Regions from separate parts of the Homo sapiens genome. Here regions 2, 3 and 4 are each linked to region 1. The links come from fine-mapping of genetic effects on gene expression. A gene starts in region 1. Each other region holds a variant in brackets. All regions are shown on one strand. Distances are from middle to middle. Region 1 holds the start of SASH1 (SAM and SH3 domain containing 1). Region 2 has its middle 23 kb from the start of SASH1. Region 3 has its middle 140 kb from the start of SASH1. Region 4 overlaps SASH1 (SAM and SH3 domain containing 1).

Evidence for each region. PIP is the estimated chance that this variant, and not a neighbour inherited with it, causes the effect. A credible set is the group of variants that fine-mapping cannot tell apart.
Region 2: its variant is the best candidate, but not a certain one, in a credible set for the expression of SASH1 in lung (TOPMed, PIP 0.62).
Region 3: its variant is the best candidate, but not a certain one, in a credible set for the expression of SASH1 in whole blood (TOPMed, PIP 0.73).
Region 4: its variant is the best candidate, but not a certain one, in a credible set for the expression of SASH1 in subcutaneous fat (GTEx, PIP 0.71).

Annotation. Positions count from the first base shown.
Region 1 is chr6:148,340,309-148,345,562 of GRCh38, reverse strand. SASH1 (SAM and SH3 domain containing 1) reads right to left here and starts at 2,725. Exons shown (of 20, transcript NM_015278.5): 1 at 2,340-2,725. The coding sequence starts at 2,495. RefSeq lists an enhancer at 3,499-4,078.
Region 2 is chr6:148,317,315-148,322,568 of GRCh38, reverse strand. It overlaps a transcript of SASH1 not described here. Among named protein-coding and RNA genes, the nearest start is that of SASH1, 23 kb to the left of the region's middle. The variant G/C (reference allele first, on the strand shown) is at 2,572.
Region 3 is chr6:148,201,291-148,206,544 of GRCh38, reverse strand. It overlaps a transcript of SASH1 not described here. Among named protein-coding and RNA genes, the nearest start is that of SASH1, 140 kb to the left of the region's middle. The variant C/T (reference allele first, on the strand shown) is at 2,285.
Region 4 is chr6:148,530,051-148,535,304 of GRCh38, reverse strand. It overlaps SASH1 (SAM and SH3 domain containing 1), which reads right to left. Exons shown (of 20, transcript NM_015278.5): 13 at 3,644-3,779; 14 at 2,339-2,508; 15 at 1,325-1,534; 16 at 404-554. Among named protein-coding and RNA genes, the nearest start is that of SASH1, 190 kb to the right of the region's middle. RefSeq lists enhancers at 1,303-1,802, 1,803-2,304. The variant C/T (reference allele first, on the strand shown) is at 2,079.

The sequences.
Region 1 (5,254 bases):
AAAGGAGCAGTAAGCCATGTCTTCCTCTGAATTTTACTAAGGAACAATCTCCATGCCTGTTTACCCCAGATAAACAAGAGGAAAACATGAGCAAACACAACCTGTCTGGGACAGGCTTTACGTTCTTCCCAGCCTGATCCTGAATGATTAGCTGAAGTACATATTTTCTTTGCTCCTGCATCTGCCCTTTCAATAGCAGGTTTGAGCTTCTGAAGCCCCACCCCATCTTTTAACTCAGCCAAAGAACACTCCACTACAACTGACCCAACAGTGCTGGAATCTGTCAGGGAAGGGAAAGCAAATCTGCAGAAAATGCCACTGGCCAACCCTCTTCCCCAAAAGAACCCTCAGCCCAAGTTTCATTTAAACAGGCCCCCAATCCTCCCCGCCCCCAGCCCAACGCCCTAGAGTAAGGGATACAATGGGATATTATCAAACCAATTTCCTCAGTGACTGAAAACTTAGAACTGGATCTAGACAAGAAATAACAGGATAACTTAAAAACAGTCTATCGGGCGCGGTGGCTCACGCCTGTAATCCCAGCACTTTGGGAGGCCGAGGTGGGCAGATCACAAGGTCAGGAGTTCGAGACCAGCCTGGCTAACATGGTGAAACCCCGTCTCTACTAAAAATACAAAAATCAGCCGGGTGTGGTGTTGCGCGCCTGTAATCCCAGCTACTCAGGAGGCTGAGGCAGGAAAATTGCTTGAACTCAGGAGGCGGAGGTTGCAGTGAGCTGAGCTCGTGCCACTGCACCCCAGCCTGGGCGACGGAGCAAGACTTCGTCTCAAAAAAAAAAAAAAAAAAGAAAAGAAAAAGTTTATCACAACTTTAAAATGTCCATTAGGTTTTCTGGAACTTCAGTGAAGGATCATATTCATCTGTATACTTCAGAAAATGCAAAAACAAAACCTTTTAAATCTAAAATATATATTAGATTTAGGTATATTATATACATGTGCTATATATAGTATGTAAATATACATTGCATGCATATTTATATACATTTTTCAATACTGGAGAGTGACAAGAGCAGATAGAAATCTTTAACCAACGCTCGCTGGTTCTCTGTATAGTAAGAATCATAAATACCAATGGTCACCTGAAAATGGAGTAACTGGGCTTTTAGGATGTCCAGAAGGAAGAGACAGGAGACTTTGCAGGAAACAAATAAAACCTGAAAGACAGCTACACTTATTGAGCCTCTACTATATGCTATACAGTCTGCTGAGTACTTGATACACACATCAACCCAGCTAAATCTCAGAAACCCCAAGAAGCAAGTCTTCTTTTCTTCAATTTTCAGGTGATGAAACTGAGGATCAGAGAGGTTGAATGACTTGGCCAAGATCATGTAAACAGTCAATTGGAGAGCTGGCATTTGACCTAGTATAACTTACTTTGAAGCCCAAGAGTTTAATCACTGTGCTAAAAACTGTACACGGTTTATCATTCCCAAAGAAGAACTTTCACTCCATCTCCTCCCACTCAAAAAATATAAGATCTCAAAGCAAATCTAGAGACTTTTCTGATAATCTGCACATCTGGCCATTCCAAGTCTTTAAACTAAAGTTGTCTTTTATGTATGGATTAAGATGTCTGACTGTAATAAACCTCGCCCATCTGATTCCAGTCTACCTGCCTAACTACAGCTCCACCAAAGCAAATCTATTACTTCCCCAAGGTATTCAACCCTGAGCAGGTTAAAACTTCACCCTCCATACAGAAGAACTGCTTCCCAGAGACTATGCCAAATCCAGGGGCGCTTTTAGTCACTGGACATTTCAAAATACATGACAGCACAGATTTAGCAAAATAAGTCCTATTGTTTTAGCCCCAAACATATAAAACAAATATCCTGTAACTCCACAAATTGAAAAACTGCAAAAAAAAGTAGGCAAACATTTTGGCAGTTCTGAGTAAGGAAATGTTTGTTTTCCCTCTTGTGGTCACACAACAAATGGTGAAGAGATAAACATCAGTAACATCAGCCTTTTCCCTAATCCAGCACCAACCAAATATTTATTTACATCTACTTTTTGAAGGCCTCTTTCTCGCCTTTTCCACACCAACATGTCAGCAGGTGTCCCAGATTAAACTGTTGAATATCATACCCGATTGTTTAAAAAACACCTTTTGACGGGACCTGTGGCTGGTTATTTTTTAATTAGGGTTTGAAATCCTATACTGTGTGTATTTAGCCCCCTAAGAACTAGAGCCAGAGAAGGACGCCTCTGCGGAGTGGGTTGCCCAGTGGGTGGGCGAGAAGGGAGCCCCCGGTTTCAGAGGGGCTGCTGCGAACTGTACTTCCTGCGCCGCCCCCTCCCCAGGTAACTTACCAGGATACCCATCACGTCGGTCCAGAGTCGGGAGAACGCCTCGGATGTGCCAGCACCCGGCTTGGGCTCCGGTTCCGGCTCCGGCGCGGGCTCGGGCTCCGGCTCGGGCTCGGGCTCAGGCTCCGGCCCCGGGCCAGCTGCTCCCGCGTCCTCCATGGCCGTGTCCCGCGCGCGGGCCGTGCGTCCCAGTCCCCGCGGCGCCCTCGCCCCGCACCCGCGCGCAGCCTGCCCGGATGCCGGGTCCCCGCCCGCGGCGTCACCGAGCCGCGCCCCCGCGCTGCATGCCCCGGCGGCCCCGGCCACCCCGCGGGGGCCCTTCGCAGGCGCCCGCACCTCGGGTCTAGGTGGCCACGGGCTGCGCGACTGACAACTCCAGAAACTTTCCCACCCCGCTCGGCGCAGCAACAGGGTAGCAGGAGGCAAAGTCCGCACCACTGAGTTGTACGGCGGGGAATTCGCTCGGCCCAGAAGCAATTAAACCCACTGCAAAGGCGTTTCTTCCTGTGACGGGAACCAACTAACTAAGGCACGCGACTCGTTCCTTCTAGCAAGTCTTGGCAGGACCCGGCAGGGGTGGCCGCGGAGCCTCTAGATCTTGGAGGGAGCTCCCCGGGACCCCTCTCTTCAAAATGAGCTCTTCCAGCTCCACATGACTCTCTCCCTCGAGGCTAAAGAAAGCGTTTAGCAACAAAAGGTGCTCTGATGTCAGGCTCTTTGCATGGAAATGAGCCTCGGACAGGAGAACAAATCGCCTGTTGAAAGAGCAGCCGCGCCGCGGTCTCCGGCCCGCACAAGTTTCCAATCACGCTATTCACGGAAACGCTTTTGGTAACGGAAACCCGAGAAAGTTAATCTTTAAGCGACTCCCGCCCAAAGGCTTCACAAGTAGTCCGTGTCGCTACAATGCATACCTCGCCCCTCGTGAAGTCAAGCGACCCAAGGAATTACAAATCCTGCCTCTGCCAGCCAAGACTTCTCTGCAAAACAAGTGTGAAAGCTTGGGCACGAGCCATTGTTTGGATCATTTTTTATGAGTGGGGGCATTTTGGCTCCTGAATGCCCACAATGCCATGCATTGCTAGGGCTTTCGGCTAATTAAGGGAAATGCGCTTTGGGTTTTAATTATTCCTTTACATTAGGGACACAGGGAAGGGCTATTTTCGAAACTAAATTCAAATGATTGTGTAGCCAGTCAGCCTACACACACTTGGGGCCCTGTGTGTGTTTTTCCAAGGGGAAGCCCCAGGACAGATTTATTTTATAAGGGAACTAGCCCTGGAGAGGTGATTTTTCCCTTTTGTGATTCTATCTTTCAAGACTACTCAGAGTTTTCCTTGGAAGGTGACAATGCACGTCACATTCGATTTGGTGATTGATCACTTTTGAAACAGTTAAGAAACCACATGGAGTTTGCTCCTCTGTTAGGGCCTTGTGGTTTAAAAGGAAAAAAAAAAGTGAGATGCCCCAGGGAGAGAGCCCTGCTTGTTTTGAGGCCTCTCCTGTTTCTTGTTGATTGTGGGGTTTTTTTTGTTTGTTTGTTTGTTTTGTTTTGTTTTGTTTTGTTTTCCTTCTGAGTCCACTTGAAAGGGGATAAGAGCATGTCCTTGAATTCCCCTTGTTCAAGTATTAAGTGCTGTGAGCACCAATCAATGCAATGGGTGAATAGTCCTTACAGGAAAGTTCAAAATGTAAAAACATTTTCAAAAGTAACTAAATTTATAAACACAATCCCTGATAATTTTTGTGTGTTTTTGGCGGGTGCGGGGCTGGCGCCTGTAATCCCAGCACTTTGGGAGGCTGAGGCGGGCGAATCACTTGAGGCCAGGATTTTGAGAACAGCCTGGTCAACACAGCAAAACCCTGTCTCTACTAAAAATACAAAAAAAAAAAAAACAAAAAAAAAAAACAAAACATAGCAAGAGTGTTGGAACATGCCTGTAATCCCAGCTACTCAGGAGGCTGAGGCAGGAGAATAGCTTGAACCCAGGAGGCGAAGGTTACAGTGAGGTCCTGCTGCTGCACTCCAGCCTGGGTGACAGAGGAAGACTCTCTGTCTCCAAAGAAAAAAAAAGTATGCTGAAAAATTTTTTTAGAGACAAGGTCCTGCTCTCTCACCCCGGCAGTGCAGTGCTGCAATCGTAGCTCACTGCGGCCTTGAACTCCTGGGCTCAAGCAATCCTCCTGCCTCAACCACCTGAGTAGCAGGGACTACAGGCACACCGCTGCACCAGACTAATTTTTTAAATTTTTTATAGAGACATGATCTCTTGCTGTTGCCCAAGGTGGTCTCAAACTCCTGGACTCAAGGGATCCTCCCTCCTTGGTCTCCTCAAGTGCTGGGATTATAGGCATGAGCCACTGCGCACAGTCTCTGACGATAATGTTTGTGAAAGGAAACCAAAAGAATTATTAAATTTCTCCTTAATAGCATTGAGGCATTGTGTTGAAGTAGAAAGAGCACTGAACTATGAGTCAGTACAGCCAGGTCTTGTGCTTTCCTAGGCTGATGCCGGAGTTAGGCCAGATGGGTTTTCAAGGCTCCCTCGTGCTCTGTGATACTTTGAATAAAAATAAATTCAGTTAAGGCTGATGAGGTTTTTTTAATTGTCATTTCTATAAATAGATAAATATAAGTAAATGATAGGAAAAGATAAATAGCCTTTACAGTTGACTGTATTGGTATATTTAAGAATTTGAATTTATTCACCACGTGATACTTTTTTTTTTTTTTTTGAGACAGAGTCTTGCTCTGTCACCCTGTCGCCCAGGCTGGAGTGCAGTGGCACCATCTTGGTTCACTGCAACCTCTGCCTCCCAGGTTCAAGCGATTCTCCTGCATCAGCCTCCTGAGTAGCTGGGATTACAGGCATGCACCACCACGCCTGGCTAATTTTTGTATTTTTAGTAGAGACGGG
Region 2 (5,254 bases), 23 kb after region 1:
CTGCAATTTCAGGGTCAGGGGAAGGAGTAGAAACTGGATTGCAACGGACTGAAGGATGACTGGGAGAAAAATAGGTAAACAAATGTGAAGAAGCCCAAGAAGATGGTTAAGAATGTGAAAGAGTTGAGCAAATTTATAAATTAAGCCGAAAAGAACTATGTAGAGAAGGACAGATGGAAGGTTTCTTTTTATTTTATTTTATTATTTTATTTTATTTGAGACTGAGTCTTGCTCTATTGCCCAGGCTGGAGTGCAGTGGCGCAGTCTCGGCTCAATGCAATCTCCACTTCCCGGGTTCAACTGATTCTCATGCCCTCAGCCTCCCAAGTAGCTGGGATTACAGGCACCCGCCACCATGCCTGGCTAATTGTTGTATTTTTAGTAGAGATGGAGTTTCACCATGTTGGCCAGGCTGGTCTCGAACTCCTGACCTCAAATGATCTGCTTGCCTCGGCCTCCCAAAGTGCTAGGATTACAGGCATGGGCCACTGTGCCCGGCTGAGAGATGGAAGATTTAAGAGATGCTACTGTTAGACCAAGATTCCAGAGGAGATGAATGTGGTAATATTATTATCACCATCATTTATACATATATTTTAATAAATGTATATGTATACCATTTATATATGAAAGTTAAAAATTTACACATAGAAGAAATTATCACTGTAGGAGTTTTCTCTTTTAAAGATCAAATAGACTCCTCCTTTCCTATTAACACATTTTTCTTACCCAATCATAACAACAGAATTGATCAGACCTTCTAAGTAAGGAGGTAAGGACTGCATTCTAATTACATTTCCCTGATGCTATGCCTAGACCATCTTCGATGGATTTCAGTTCAATAAATACTTACTAAGTGTCTATTTTGTGCTAAGCATTGGGAATGTGAAAATAAGTTGTAAATCCTGATTTTGATGAGCTTAGTCTAGTGAGGGAGACAGACACATAAGTAGGCTGGTATGAATGTAATCACAGTTTTTGCCATTACTTTCAAAGAGTGCAGTCAGCCAGGTGCCATGTTTGATCACCATTATATTCCTGAAGGCAGAAATGGCAGTATTTTTAAGCACAGCAATCTCAGGGGTTCCTCTGTTTCAGTAGCTCATAGGACAAAGAGCTTCATTTTGATCTTTCATGCACATACATCCATTTGCCATTACTTTTTTTTTTTTTTTTTTAAGACAGAGTTTCACTCTTGTTACCCAGGCTGGAGTGCAATGGTGCAATCTCAGCTCACTGCAACCTCTGTCTCTGGGTTCAAGAGATTCTCGTGCCTCAGCTTCCCAAGTAGGTGGGATTACAGGCATGCGCCACCACGCCAGGCTCATTTTTTGTATTTAGTAGAGATGGTGTTTCACCACATTGGCCAGGCTGGTCTTGAACTCCTGACCTCAAGTGATCTGCCTGCCTTGGCCTCACAAGGCATGGGATTACAGATGTGAGCCACCGCGCCTGGCCTGCCATTACCTTCAATGGTAAAAACCGTGATTATGTTTGCACCAACCTAATACTATCAATCCTGTGTGATAAAGGAACGCACAAGGTGCTTTATGAACAAAGAGACTGGACGGTTAGTGCAGCCTTGAGGCATTATGGAAGACTTCTTGTAAGAGGCTTCATCTGAGTTAGTAAGAAGTACTGAAGGAAGAATCAAAATTACTCAGCCATGTGGTGGCTAAACTGGACTCAGACTATGAGAACAATGGGAGCAAAGGCACAAAGACATAAAATGACATTAAGTGTTGGAGGGACTTGAAGCTCTCTGTTTTAAAAAACACAAGTGAAGTCTGGGTACGGTGGCTCACGCCTGTAATACCAACACTTTGGGAGGCTGGAGGAGGAGAATCTCTTGAGCCCAGGAGTTCCAGACCAATACAAGTGGGAGAATGGCTGAACCCAAAGCTCAAGGCAGATGGATGGTCAAACACTTTCCACCTTGTAGGCTGTAAGCGAAGGAGGTTGGACTTAAAGACCTGAAAGAACCCACCCTTTGTCTTTTGGTTCTTCCTAATGTCCTCTTTGGGATGGTAATCTTCACTTTATTTTGAAGAGCACCATGTACCAGGGACAGTCCCTTGGCTGAGTAGATGATTCCAAAGCCTGCTGTAACAGAATACACACATTAGGGAGAGAGGGAGTAAAATTTGGAACACTTCACTAATGTGAAGGTCATACCTGCCCAAAGGCCAGCCAGAAGCGGTGCCGCTATCAAGGGGGGTGGCCCATACACCAATAATGTACCTTGATATTTTCTAGCAGCAGCACCAATCAGCTCTTTTCAGAGGGTCTTGTCCAGATCTTTCCACAGGCTCTGCGATCTGAAGTAAAGTATTCTCCCTTTATCCTTAGGGGATAGATTCCCCAACCCCCAGTGAATTCCTGAAACCATGGATGGTGCTGAACCCTATAGATATTATGTTTTTTCTCATACATACATACTTATGATAAAGTTTAATTTATAACTTAGGCACAGTAATACATTAACAACTAACGATAAAATAGAACAATTATAACCATATGCCAGCATCACTGCTCTTGTACTTTGGGGCCATCATGAGGCAAAATAAGGGT[G/C]ACTTCAACAGCAGTATGGTGATAGTCAATCTGATAACTGAGTCAGCTACTAAACAACTACTGTGTAGACCACATGGGTACAATGGACAGAGGGAGGAGTCACATCCTGGGAGGGATGTTGCTGGACAGCACAAGATTTCATTATGTCCCTCAGAATGGCGTGCAATTTAAAACTTATACATCGGGCCGGGTGCGGTGGCTCATGCCTGTAATCCCAGTACTTTGGGAGGCCAAGACTTGCGGATCACCTGAGATCGGGAATTCGAGACCAGCCTGACCAACATGGAGAAACCCTGTGTCTACCAAAAATACAAAATTAGTTGGGCGTGGTGGCGCATGCCTGCAATCCCAGCTACTCGGGAGCCTGAGGCTGGGAATTGCTTGAACCCGGGAGGGGAGGTTGTGGTGAGCCGAGATCATGCCATTGCACTCCAGCCTGGGCAACAAGAGCAAAACTCCATCTCAAAAAAACAAAAAACAAAACAAAAAAACAAAAATCTTATACATATTTATTTATTGAGTTTTCCATTTAATATTTTAGGACTAAAATGTGGGTAACTAAAATTGAGGAAAAAGAAACCATGAATAAGGGAGGACTACGGTGATTCACAATCTCCCAGGTTCCTTAACTCCAAATTGAAGGGGGTAAAAAAAGATAAATGGGGCTGGGCGCGGTGGCTCACGCCTGTAATCCCAGCACTTTGGGAGGCAGAGGCGGGTGGATCATGAGGTCAGGAGATCAAGACCATCCTGGCAAAACACGGTGAAACCCCGTCTCCACTAAAAAATACAAAAGAATTAGCCGGACGTGGTGGTGGGCGCCTGTGGTCCCAGCTACTCGGGAGGCTGAGGCAGGAGAATGGCATGAACTCGGGAGGCGGAGCTTGCAGTGAGCCGAGATCGCGCCACTGCACTCCAGCCTGGGCTACAGAGCCAGACTCCGTCTCAAAAAAAAAAAAAAAAAAAAAAAAAAAAGAAGATAAATGCGGCTTCTTCCATATTCCATAACAGGAGAATGGTCAAATAAATGATGATATGATGTCTTGAAGGAATAATATCTACAGATTAAATTGTTAAAACCGTATAAAATATGTAACAGCATGGGAAAATATTCTCTGTGTGAAAAATTTTAAGAAATTAGTAGTATAGCTGGGCGTGGCGGCTCACGCCTGTAATCCCAGCACTTTGGGAGGCTGAGGCGGGCGGATCACAAGGTCAAGAGATCGAGACCATCCTGGTCAACGTGGTGAAACCCCGTCTCTATTAAAAGTATAAAAATTAGCTGAGCGTGGTGGCCGGCGCCTGTAGTCCGAGCTACTCGTGAGGCTGAGGCAGGAGAATCGCTTGAACCCGGGAGGCGGAGCTTGCAGTGAGCCAAGATCATGCCATTGCACTCCAGCCTCGGCGACAGAAAGAGACGCCGTCTCAAAAAAAAAAAAAAAAGAAATTAGTAGTATATGTGCCCACAAAAGGTGAGAAAAGAAGCTGCCAATGTTCTATGGCCATGTTTGCAGTACAGTAAGGAGCTCAATAAATATTTTTTGAACAAACAAATAAATGAATGTCAAATGAAAGCTGTTGATGCATTCAGATGATATGATTTTGAACTAAACTATCTGAAAATTTTTCTATACTGTTACTATGCTGTTTAATGATAAGCATAATGTTAATAAAGAACACTGATTATTTACTGTATACAGGTACTGCCCTGTATATTAAATATTTTGTAATGCTACCTATTCATTGCCTGGCAAAACATGCCTGCTGTTTGTCTGTTTCCAGACTCAAGCATTCATGGAGACAAATTCAATGCCAGCCAGACATAGAAGTGTTCTAAAAATTGGTCTGGTGAATGAAAGAATGAATGAATGCCTCCATGAATGACAGTGGCAGAAACTGAGGGCCACGATACTAGTGCCTTAGACCAAAAGGTCTCTGTGTGATGCATGGGGATGAATTCTCAGTCTAAGTCCTGGGCTTTTAGATTCTTTATGTAAATACTTGCTAGTATTAAAATGACTGAGTTCCTGAAGCTGAGAGACAAGGGTTCTTTTCTCAACAGTTTCAGAAAACACAACCTTTCACATAACTTATGATAGTTCCTGAATGCCTCACTGTTAAATAATGGAATGCGTTGCTAAAGGTTGAGATATTATAGCATTTCCAAAAAGGCAGCAATGCACTATGGCAAATATTTCATGAATGGAACCTGAATGGATCCAGTATCCAACAAAAGCAAGATGTTGGGAGTCCCATTAAAAATTTTTTTCCTTGGCCGGGCGCCGTGGCTCACGACTGTAATCCCAGCACTTTGGGAGGCCGAGGCAGGCGGATCACAAGGTCAGGAGATTGAGACCATCCTGGCCAACATGGTGAAACCCCGTCTCTACTAAAAATACAAAAAAATTAGCCGGATGTGGTGGCACATGCCTGTAATCCCAGCTACTCGGGAGGCTGAGGCAGGAGAATCGCTTGAGCCCAGGAGGCGGAGGTTGCGGTGAGCCGAGGTCGTGCCATTGCACTCCAGCCTTGGCAACAAGAGTGAAACTCCATCTCAAAAACAACAAAAAAAATTTTTTTCCTCAATATTTTCTCAAACCTCCTAAATAATAACAAATATTCAGGAACCACTTCTTTTGATCCACCCATAGTGTTTAACTTTCCTGGTTTTCCAGGTTTCATG
Region 3 (5,254 bases), 140 kb after region 1:
GTGCTGGGATTACAGGCGTGAGCCACTGCACCTGGCCTGTTAATTTGTATTAATGTAAATTTTCTATTTATGGCAAGTTATATTGGCTTTATGCTAGTGACATTACATTTCTTAAATATACAGCTATCAAAATTTCAAAGGAAGTAAATTTGAAGAAAAATATTAGATGAAAACTAGTACTAGTGAAATGCAATATGGGATAAAGTTTCATATGATTTGCAAAAGACTGAGCTTTGAGAAACCCTGATTTAAGGCAACAAGATCCATTATGAAGGTATGTTTCTAGGTGGGGCTGACTTCTCCATCAGGTGCTCTAGGCATAGCACTGACAGCTGGCATGTTTCTAGGCTTAGTAGGTTAATGACAATACAGCAAGGGCCCATGAAAATGTATTAATACATTTTCTCTTTAATAGATTAAGTCAGGAAAAAAATAAATGGCAAAGAAAATCTTTTAATTATTTATCTTTATGCTGACATTTGTAAAGTGCAACTTTCTATATATATATTTTTACAGAGGAAGGGGTTCTTGAAGGCAAAAGTGCCTAAAGCCCATGAAAATCATAAGGCAGCCTATTCCTAGGCAAACCGGGAAGGAACCTCTGAGGCAATGGAATGCAAAAGGATAGAGCTCGCTCAGCTGCACCCACAGTGGGTAGGGGTGGAGATGCTGGATTTGAGCAGGAGGGCATCAGTACAATCAGAGAGCAATGCTCCATGTGTGCTTATCTGCTAAGTATGGCACAGGCTCAGGGCAGGTCAGCAGACAGGGTGCCCAGGGTTCAGTCCAGGCCCACCAGACAGCAGGGTTAGGATAGTTGGATTAGTCTCCACTTTTGTGATGACTACCTGTTGGTCAGAATTGATTGGGGAGTGGTGGTCAGAGCTGAGTCTTCAAGGTGAAGTTCTTCTGGGGACTAGGGAAAGGCAAGGTTGGGAAGGGCAGGATTTAGGGCATCCTCTATTAGGAAGACCTATTAGGACTACTTAGCACTGACATTATAGGGGTATAGAGACAAACACCTACTTGGCCTGAGTCAGGCCAATTATGATGATAAGAAACACAGAAGTGAGAACCAGAGACACACATAATGCAACCCCTAAATACAAAAAGGGACTTGGGAATGCTGGCAGATATTGCTTTTGGAAAAAAGAAGTTTATGAAAAAATTATCTAATGCACCCTGAAGGCAAAGGCTGATGGGCAACCAAGCGCAAGGCCCAGTTAAGGCTGACCCGAGACCTCTTGACAAGTTCTGGGACGACAGAGGTATAAGAACCATTTCAAGTCGAAGGAGAGTGGTTAAAGGCCAGGTATGCGGACCACTTCTATAAGATCTCATAGTTGCTCTCTTGTTGCCGAGCGAGGCGAATGACATTGATAAATCGCCCCATTATAACTGGTGATAAAAGCAGCAGGTACTTAAAGGACTGACCAATAGACATCTGAAAAGACAAATGACTGCTTGAAGATGACTGATACAAGTTGGAAATTAGCGATACCCATTGTGAGGAGAACAGGACAAAGCACGCTGGACAGAGATAATACCCCAATCTCCTGAATGCTCATTGATGTGGGTCACCTGACAGCCTTCTCGGAAAAAAGTCTTAATTACTAAAAACATATGTGAAAACACCCTGAGGACCATGATAGCTCATGCAAATGTAAGGTATTATTATGATTCAACCAACTGAAGTGTTGAAAATTAAAGCAATTTTATATACTTTCATTTGGGGCACAAGTTTTGGGGCATTCGGTTAGGACTTTTTTTTTTTACTAAATGGTCTGGATACTTACTATAGTGATGTGTAGAATCAGCATAAACAGTTTTTTTTGTTTGTATTTTTGTTTTTGAGAAGCAGTTTCACTCTCGTTGCCCAGTCTGGAGTGCAATGGCATGTTCTTGGCTCACTGCAACCTCCACCTCCTGGGTTCAAGCGATTCTCCTACCTCAGCCTCCTGAGTAGCTAGGATTACAGGTGCCTGCCACCATGCCTGGCTAATTTTTGTATTTTTAGTAGAAATGGGGTTTCACTACATTGGCCAGGCTGGTCTTGAACTCCTGACCTCAGGAGATCTGCCTGTCTTGGCCTCCCAAAGTGCTGGGATTACAGATGTGAGCCACTGCACCCAGCCAAGAATTTTATCTTTCAAAAACCTCCAACTTTTGGGGGAGACTCAGAATGACTATGCAATGAAAAAAGTCTTGCAGATAATTCTCCCCTGTGAAATTGGTCTCTTTTGTACTGTCGATTGTGGTGGTTTCTATACAGTAGCATCCAGCA[C/T]CTATTCCGCAAACCACTTCCTTCTTAAACCTCAAGGGTTTCTGCAAACCGCATTCAAATGATCTGTAGAAAGCGTTACCCTACACTTTCCATTACATCAGAGCCTTGCCGAGCGGCCCGAGAGGGATTCATCAACTGCTGCTGTGTCCCCATGTGTCTGATTAGCCACAAACACATAATGAATGTGGTTCAGCAGTGTAGGAAGCCGCAGTGGAGAACTGCAGCAAAAATTCCCGGCAATTTTTCTGGCAGCTGTCATCAGTCAACAAAACCCAAACTGACACCTTCAGTTGCCAACAGTTTTGGGTAAAACACATGCATGTTCCCAAGGTACAAGGGCCACAGGTTGAGAGTAAGGTTAAACGATAGAGTTTCTCTACTGGATGGAATGGAAGAAGATAGCAAAGTGAGCTTTTGTGATATTAATAAAGAACCTAATGGATTAATGGAAGGGACTGCTATGTAGGTTTCTGGTGAGTAACCGGTGATGCTGTGAAAGCTACGTGTGGCATCCAATAGTTAGCCCATTTTTACTTCAAGAAAACTCATCCTCGTGCTCTGCAGCAGCTGCTACTGTTTGGATTATGAATAGTTATACGCCAGATGGTGTGGCAGAAAGGACTCACACATATTTTCACATGGACAAATATTATTATTCCAAAACATAAACACGTTAATATAAGTGTTTTTTCTCCTGGGAGAAATCCAGCCCCTGATCTCAGTTATAAGAAAATGACTCAGTCTGTATATGCAAAAATTACCTGCCAAGGTTATTATTGGAAGAAACCCACACCACAGCGTTCCCCAAGTTTTCCTTTCCTTATTTGTAGTCAGCTGCATTTAATGTGATAAAGGAGAAACAGAAAGGAAGGGAGGGAGAGAAGACGGGAGGATGGAAAAGAAGGAAGAGGAAGAGAGTGAATGAAGACACGAGGTAAGGAAGGGGAAAATCACTGTCCCTCCACCCCAGAATTCTCATAATGGTGACAGCAGTGTGTTGGCCTGGGAATTATAATGCCAAATACCTGGTGACCAAAACTAGAAGGCAAAGATGGAAAAGATGGAATCAGGCCATTTAGACACATCAGTGAAAGATTCTTCTGAAGCATACTTCCAGCTCTTTCTCTGATTTTATTTGGAATGTTTCAAGGACAAAGAGTCCATCACAGTCAAGTCAATATAGTTCTCATAACAATGTATCCAGATTTCCCATTTCTAAATTTTTCTTAATTTGGTCTTGTTACTTCTTGCTGTCATTTCAATTTTTCTATATTCTTTCTTTTCTGTTTTTTGTTTTTGTTTTTTTTTTGACACAGCCTTGCTCTGTTGCATAGGCTGGAGTGTAATGGCACAATCTCTGCTCACTGCAACCTCTGCCTACCGGGTTCAAGCGATTCTTGTGCCTCAGCCTCCTGAGTAGCTGAGATTACAGGCACATGCCACCATGCCTGCCTAGTTCTTGTATTTTTAGTAGAGACAGAATTTCGCCACGTTGGCCAGGCTGGTCTGGAACTCCTGACTCAGGTGATCTGCCTGCCTCGGCCTCCCAAAGTGCTGGGATTATAGGCATGAGCCACTGCTCCTCACCTTATATTCTTTCTTTCCCCAGAAATTCCTATAATAAGCTTTTCTTCACAAGAATCTTCCACTCTTGGTGCCAGACATTTTGTAATCAATCCTAAACCCTCCTTCTTTATCTCTCTTCCTGCTAAGCCTTGGTCATTGCCTTCCAAGACTTCTTGCCTAGTTTTCCAGCCTCCCGGCAGCCCTCCTGTCTCCTAGCAGGGTAGACCAGCCCACCAGGGCTCAGGGAGGGCAGACCTGGGGTGATGTGTGCAGGAGGAGATGGAAAGGATGAGTCCAGCTGCAGTCCTTGGATGTCTTTTCGCTATGTGGGCCCTGTGGGTCAGCTCTTTTAACGTGGAACCAGCGCTGTGCCCTACTGAGAAAGGCACACTAGGAAGTTCTGTCCTTGCAGGCAATGTTAGAGTTGGCTTCCATTGTAGAGTAGTTTTTAGTGGGTCCTCTCTTTTGGCATACAATTGCAGGTTTACTACCTACAAGCGAACAATTCACCTAGCATCCTGACTTTCATTCTTTGGAGTTCAAATAACAGATAATTAAAAAAAAAACTGAATCCAGCATTTGCCTATTGCTTGACCACCCTGCTGCATGTACACCCTTCAGCTCCAGGACCACATGTGGTCAGGCTGATAAGTATAAGTGGGTGACTCGGTGGGGGCTAAGAGATAATATGGACCGGGTGAACTGGTGGATATACACCTTCAATAGCATTCAAGCTAAAATGCCTCACAGCCTTGTGCATTCCCACTGGAGAACATCTGCAGGCTGTGTCCAGCCTCAGGGCCACAAGTACACAATCCCTGCTCAGCAACCCACCACCCTTTATGTTCAAGCACATCCCCATATCTTTTATTTTTGTGGCCTCCCCTGGCAGGACCCACTCCATCTGTTCTCCTTTATTCTCAGGCTGTTTGTCTCAATGTCACTTCCACTGGTCCTGGTTCAGATCCTTGGTATCACGAACACCCTCCAGGTCTTCGACAGGCCCCAGGAGCCTTCTGGGCACCCCAGAGCAGTCTCTTCTCTAAGGAAAGCATTCTGGATTACTGCAGCTGTTCCATGGGTGATACGGTTTTGAGCTCTAGGACAGCAATTCTCAAAGTGTGCCCCGAGATCAGCAGTATCGGCATTGCCTGGCAACTTAGAAAAATGCAAATTTGGGGGTCCCACCCTAGGCCACTGAATCAGAAACTCTGGGGGGAGATGCACAGTGGTGGGCCCAGCAATCTGGGTTTTAATCGGCCTTCCAGGAGATTCCACTGCAGGGACAAGCTTGAGAATCACTGCTCTATTCAGTTGGTCCCACCCCGGATGGCAATGTACTTTGGTTTGCCTGTATCCCTCTTAAATTTCACTCCCTAAAACTAAAACTTAACCCATTTAGAG
Region 4 (5,254 bases), 190 kb before region 1:
AACTGTAATTCCATTCTTGCAGACACTTGGTGCAGAATCCTCTTCAACTATCACCTAGAAACATGCCCGGAAAGGTGGCGGCGGCACAGGAGGTTTTCTTTTGTTCCCATGTCTGCACTGGGAATTTATGATTTTGTGCTGTTTGACCTTGGCATGGGAAAGAACAGGACAGAATAAGTGACTCCAGGGACCTAAGCACATACTGGCAGCGTAGGTGGGGCCTGCTGTGGCAGACCTCACAGGGAACACCTCTGTGCGTACAGGGACTTACTGTCATACTCTTGTAACAGAAAGAACAGGACAGAATAAGTGACTCCAGGGACCTAAGCACATACTGGCAGCATACGTGGGGCCTGCTGTGGCAGACCTCACAGGGAACACCTCTGTGCATACAGGGACTTACTGTCATACTCTTGTAACAGCTCCACTGCTGTCAAGAGAACAGCTCTGTGTTCCGGGTCCCTGATATTTAACTCATCCAAGTCTTCCTCCTCCAGCAGCTTAAAGGTGTCCAAATCTTCATATCCATTGAACAGGAAAGTGGGCATGTGCTCCTGTGAGAGGGAGAAGGAAGACAGAAGGGTGTCAGCCAGCCCAGACACATGATAACACCGCCAACAACTAGCCTGCAACCCACACACTGTTCCCATAGTCACCTTCAGGCTAATCAAAAGATTAGTAAGTATCATTTGCAATGGATCCTGTACATCCCAGCCCTCTGGCTTAGTAGGCAAGCAGGGTGTTTTATTAATCATGGGTTAGGAAGATGTACATTGCAGGCTGTGATGGATTCTGCTGGCTTGCACTATAATTGTACTCTTGATAAGAGCTAATTCCTTTACCTCCACAGAGCCCACAACAGAGGAGACTCCTCCTCCACTTACAGAGCTATTAAAATCCAGCTTTTAAGTCCTCAGGATCAAGAGTTTTGCAAAGAGGAAACATAATCTCTCATTGCAGACTCATGCTAGTAGATGCCTGGAGTGATGGTGGGAGAGAGGTGGGCGCAGAGTTTCCTTGTGGCCCCTGTGGAGCTAGCTGCGATCAAGGTGCCAGGAGTTTCTGCCTACAGCTCTTCCAGCAGCAAGGTTTGACCCGGGGCTTACGCTATCACCCACAGCTGAGGTCAAGGGCAGTGTTGGAAAACTGGTAACTAACTAACTCTTTCTGTAGAATAATGAATGCTCATCATAGTAACGAGCTGCCCTTATTGGACCACACAGATCAGCCCCAACCCTACCCTAAAAATGCCCTCACTTGCTTAGTGTAGGAGAGAAAAAGGCAGTGAGGTAGTAGCGTGTGACAAGAATCAGAAGCGACTGACTTTTAGGTTAATCCGATCCAGGAGATCCTCCACAGACTTGGGCTGGGGTGGTCGTCCTTTCCGACGCCTCCTGGTGGGGCGTTTGGGTTTCTCCTCGTCTTCACTGAGCACGTCCACGTAGATGAACTTGAACGTGCCGACTTTGTTGTTCAGCAGGCCCATCCAGGTCCCCATGGGTGGCTTGCTGATTATATCGATGATATCTCCTTTCTGTGGCCCAGGGAGCAAAGATCTTTCCATTAGGTACATTCCATGAACGTACAAATCAAGAATCTGTCAGATACACAGGTCATGCAGAAGTGAAGATGCCACAAAGGCCAGAATCGGGGTCCCACAAGTCACCCCTCTGAGTGACCTGCATAGGATGTGACTGTGAGCTCCGCAGAGGCCAGACAGGTGTCTCTGACTGTACGGAATTCCACGCAGGCCCCCGGTCACAGCCCCTCCACCCTCCTGCCCTGCAGAACCAGGGGTGCCTGGGGTACCCCTGGTGCTCTCAGCCAGGCTGCCCGCCCGGCACTCTGAACGCCTTCCCTCCTCAGAGGGCTCCCACTTCTTAGAGGAGGCACTTCCCACCTGTCCTAACCAGTGGCAATCCCGGCCCTGTCATGGCTGCACACACTTTGTGGAACCCCATCTGTCCCATAAAGGTACCTCTGAGCACACAGAAGGCAGAAATCTTTCTTCAGATGGAGAAAACACAGAAACCAGGTGTGTGGAGCAGGAGCCAGGTGGGGAGAGGGAGGGTGTGCAA[C/T]AGGAATTCTAGAGGGAAGCTGAGGTCAGAGGGGTGAAGTGATGCTAACCCAGGGATTAACACGAGACCCTCCCTCTGCCTCGAGGGCTGGCTGGTTCTTGTTCTGTTTTTCACTACAGAGGAGACCAGTGATCGAGGTAGCCAAGATACTGTCCAGTCTGTACCATAGTAGCCCAGCATTCAACAGTGAGGAGGAAAGAAAGCCTCCTAGAGAAATGGAAGAGCCCAGTTAGCTGCTCTGAGGCCAGGGAGAGAGATACCTTGAGCTTGAGTGAGTCTGTGTCATAGGGACTGGGGGTGAAGTCGGTGTGCACCCTGGCACGCCCGCAGAACGGGCCTCGGTAAGGCGGCTCTTCGTCATCCCCATCTTCCGACTTGACGCTTTCCCGGTTGCTGGTTGAGGAATCAGTGGTGCTCACTGTTTGACCGCCTGTACAGGAAACATAGGAAGAACACGGGTAGATCCAGATTTCCCACCCAGCAAAGCAGAAAGGTATTGAAGGTATGGCAGATTAGGAAATGAAGGCCCAGAGAAAGGAAGCCTTGAGCCACAACCCTCTGTCAGGACCAGGGCAGGGCCCAGTTATGAATTCTCCGAGTGCTATCCCTCAGCTCCTCAGTGGACAGGGGACTCACAGCAAGTTACCCTCATGACCTGGGAATCCATGTGGCACGGAGGATCCCGCGTGGAGGACACTGCAGGGCCAGGCACCAGACTCTGCTCTTAACATTCGTGACCTCTCAGTGGTAATGCACACTCTCTCTAACCATTTTACAGATGAGGAAACAAATTCAGAGCAGTCATGTCATTTGCCCAAAAGGGTAAGAAAGAGCTTAAAGTGGTAGGTTTAAACTTGATCTCGGGGCACGGTGGCTCACGCCTATAATCCCAGCACTTTAGGAGGCCGAGGTGGGCAGATCGCTTGAGTCCAGGAGTTCCACCAGCCTGGGCTACATGGCAAAACCCCGTCTCTACAACAAAATTAGCCGGGTGTGGTGGCATGACCCTGTAGTACAGCTATGCGGAAGGCTGAGGCAGGAGGATCCCTTGAGCCAGGGAGGTGAAGGTTGCAGTGAGCTGAGATCACAACACTGCACTCCAGCCTGGGAGACAGTGAGACTCCATCTCAAAAATAAAAATAAAAATAAAATAAAGTTGATCTTTTCCTTCATACCATTCAGCCAACTCCAACTACCATTGGCCCGAATTTATCAGTCACATATAAAATTCCCCTCCCTTCCCCACTCCCTTTATTTTGCTGGTCATCTTCATGTGCTTGTCTCCCTGGCTTATTCCCCCTGCTCTCTAGATCCTTCCTCTGAGATGCTTTCCCTATTGTCTCCGATCAAAATTCATCACCTCCTGTTTTGGGCTGCTGCTGCTGCATGTCTACTAATAAACAAACACGACTCTGAGTCCAGAGAGTTTATTGGTCTGATTCTCTAATAGCACCTGAAGGGCAGGACTTGGTCTTATTCACCTTGAAATTGCCTGAACCTAGTGCTCAGTATATGTCAGATATTAACTCCAAAGAAAATAATCTACAATGACAAACTCGACTTACTCATGGAGCTCTGCCCACTGAGAGAACTGCGAAGACTTTCTACAGAACCCCCGGCCTTGAGCTTGGGCTTGTCCAAGTGTTCGGGGTCGGGCTGTGAAGGCGGAGGGGAGCCAGGCATTCCATCAAGGCCCGAGTCCTGCCATGGGTTTCAACAAAATGAAGAAGTTCATCAGAGTGGACAGGTGTTGTTTTGTAATTCTCAGCGACTTGGCCTTCAACGAAATCAATCAAATCAATCTATACCTATATTTGATTCTATAACCAATATTCTCCTCCTCTTAAACTTACATCCTCGCTTACTTTTAAAGTCGTGGCCAATGTCACTATTTATTAAGCACTCAAATACTATTTCTCATTCTCGAATAGATATTCTTGGAATCTCCAAGAAAAAAAAAATCTGTCTACCACACAGACAAAATACTTAAAGGTTTAGAGACTCAGCATACGCAAAAGCCCAGTAGCAAGGCTGGACTTCAAATGTAGATCAAGTACAATCCATGATTACTAGAATACCTGGAAGTGTAGTCAGAGGATATTTAATCTACTTGGATAGGAAACATGCACTTTTAAAAAAGTGTATTCCTGGAAAAAAAAAATTGGCTAGATTCTTATATTTCTATTTGTACAAATTATTGGCATTGGATAAGGAAACATGAATTTAAAACCCACATATACAGCAAACATACTATTTTCCAGTCTACCATAAAATTTCCATATGTTACTCTAAAGTTTTAGCTTCTTTCACTTTTCTAAAGTGTTGTCAGTAAAAAGCTGGGAAATCTCTTTCACACCAGAATCCTGATGGGAGTGACTCAGCAGTACTTCCTGCATTTTGAGTAGCTAAGTATTATCCTCTCAGCGGCTCCTCATTTGCACATTTGAGTATAGCATGCTTATTTGATTCGTGGTGCTACATCAATAGACGATATCACACTTCAGAAAGTTTGCAGTGAGAATTGTTTACTTGCCAAAATAGAAAAGTCTCTGGCATATTACATATGGCCGCAGCCACACGGGCTCAAAACCAGCTAAAATGAAACCTGCTATTTGCATGCTGCCGAGTCATCAGAAGGGCCTTAACACAGCTCCGCAGGTCCTGCAAACATCTGAGGACATCAGCAACAGCAGCTTCTGATCCAACACACATTAGTGCTTTCAATGTGAGGAAAGTGAGCAAGCGACCTCAAAAACAACAAAGAAAACTAGAGCTGACATTATTAGGAAGTTACTGAAGCTCCAAAGTATGAATTCCTTAAAAAAAAAAAATTCATTCCTCCTTTCTGCGTCATAAAATAAGTAACTTTTTTCCCATTAAAATCTTCTGTAATGCTTCTGAAAAAAGCACGCAGTTTGAAAAACAGCAATAGTAAATGTGGGTCTCTGATATATTTTCAAATGCTTTAAAAAATTATTAATTTATTCATCACATGTTTATGAATTACCTACAATAACAGGCACTAATCCAGGTATTGGGCATATAGCAGCAACGGAGAAAACAAATATCCCTACCATAATGGTTGGTATATTTACTAAAAAGTTTTTTTAAAAAAACACACAAGGTGGGCGCAGTGGCTCATGCCTGTAATCCCAGCACTCTGGGAGGCTGAGGTG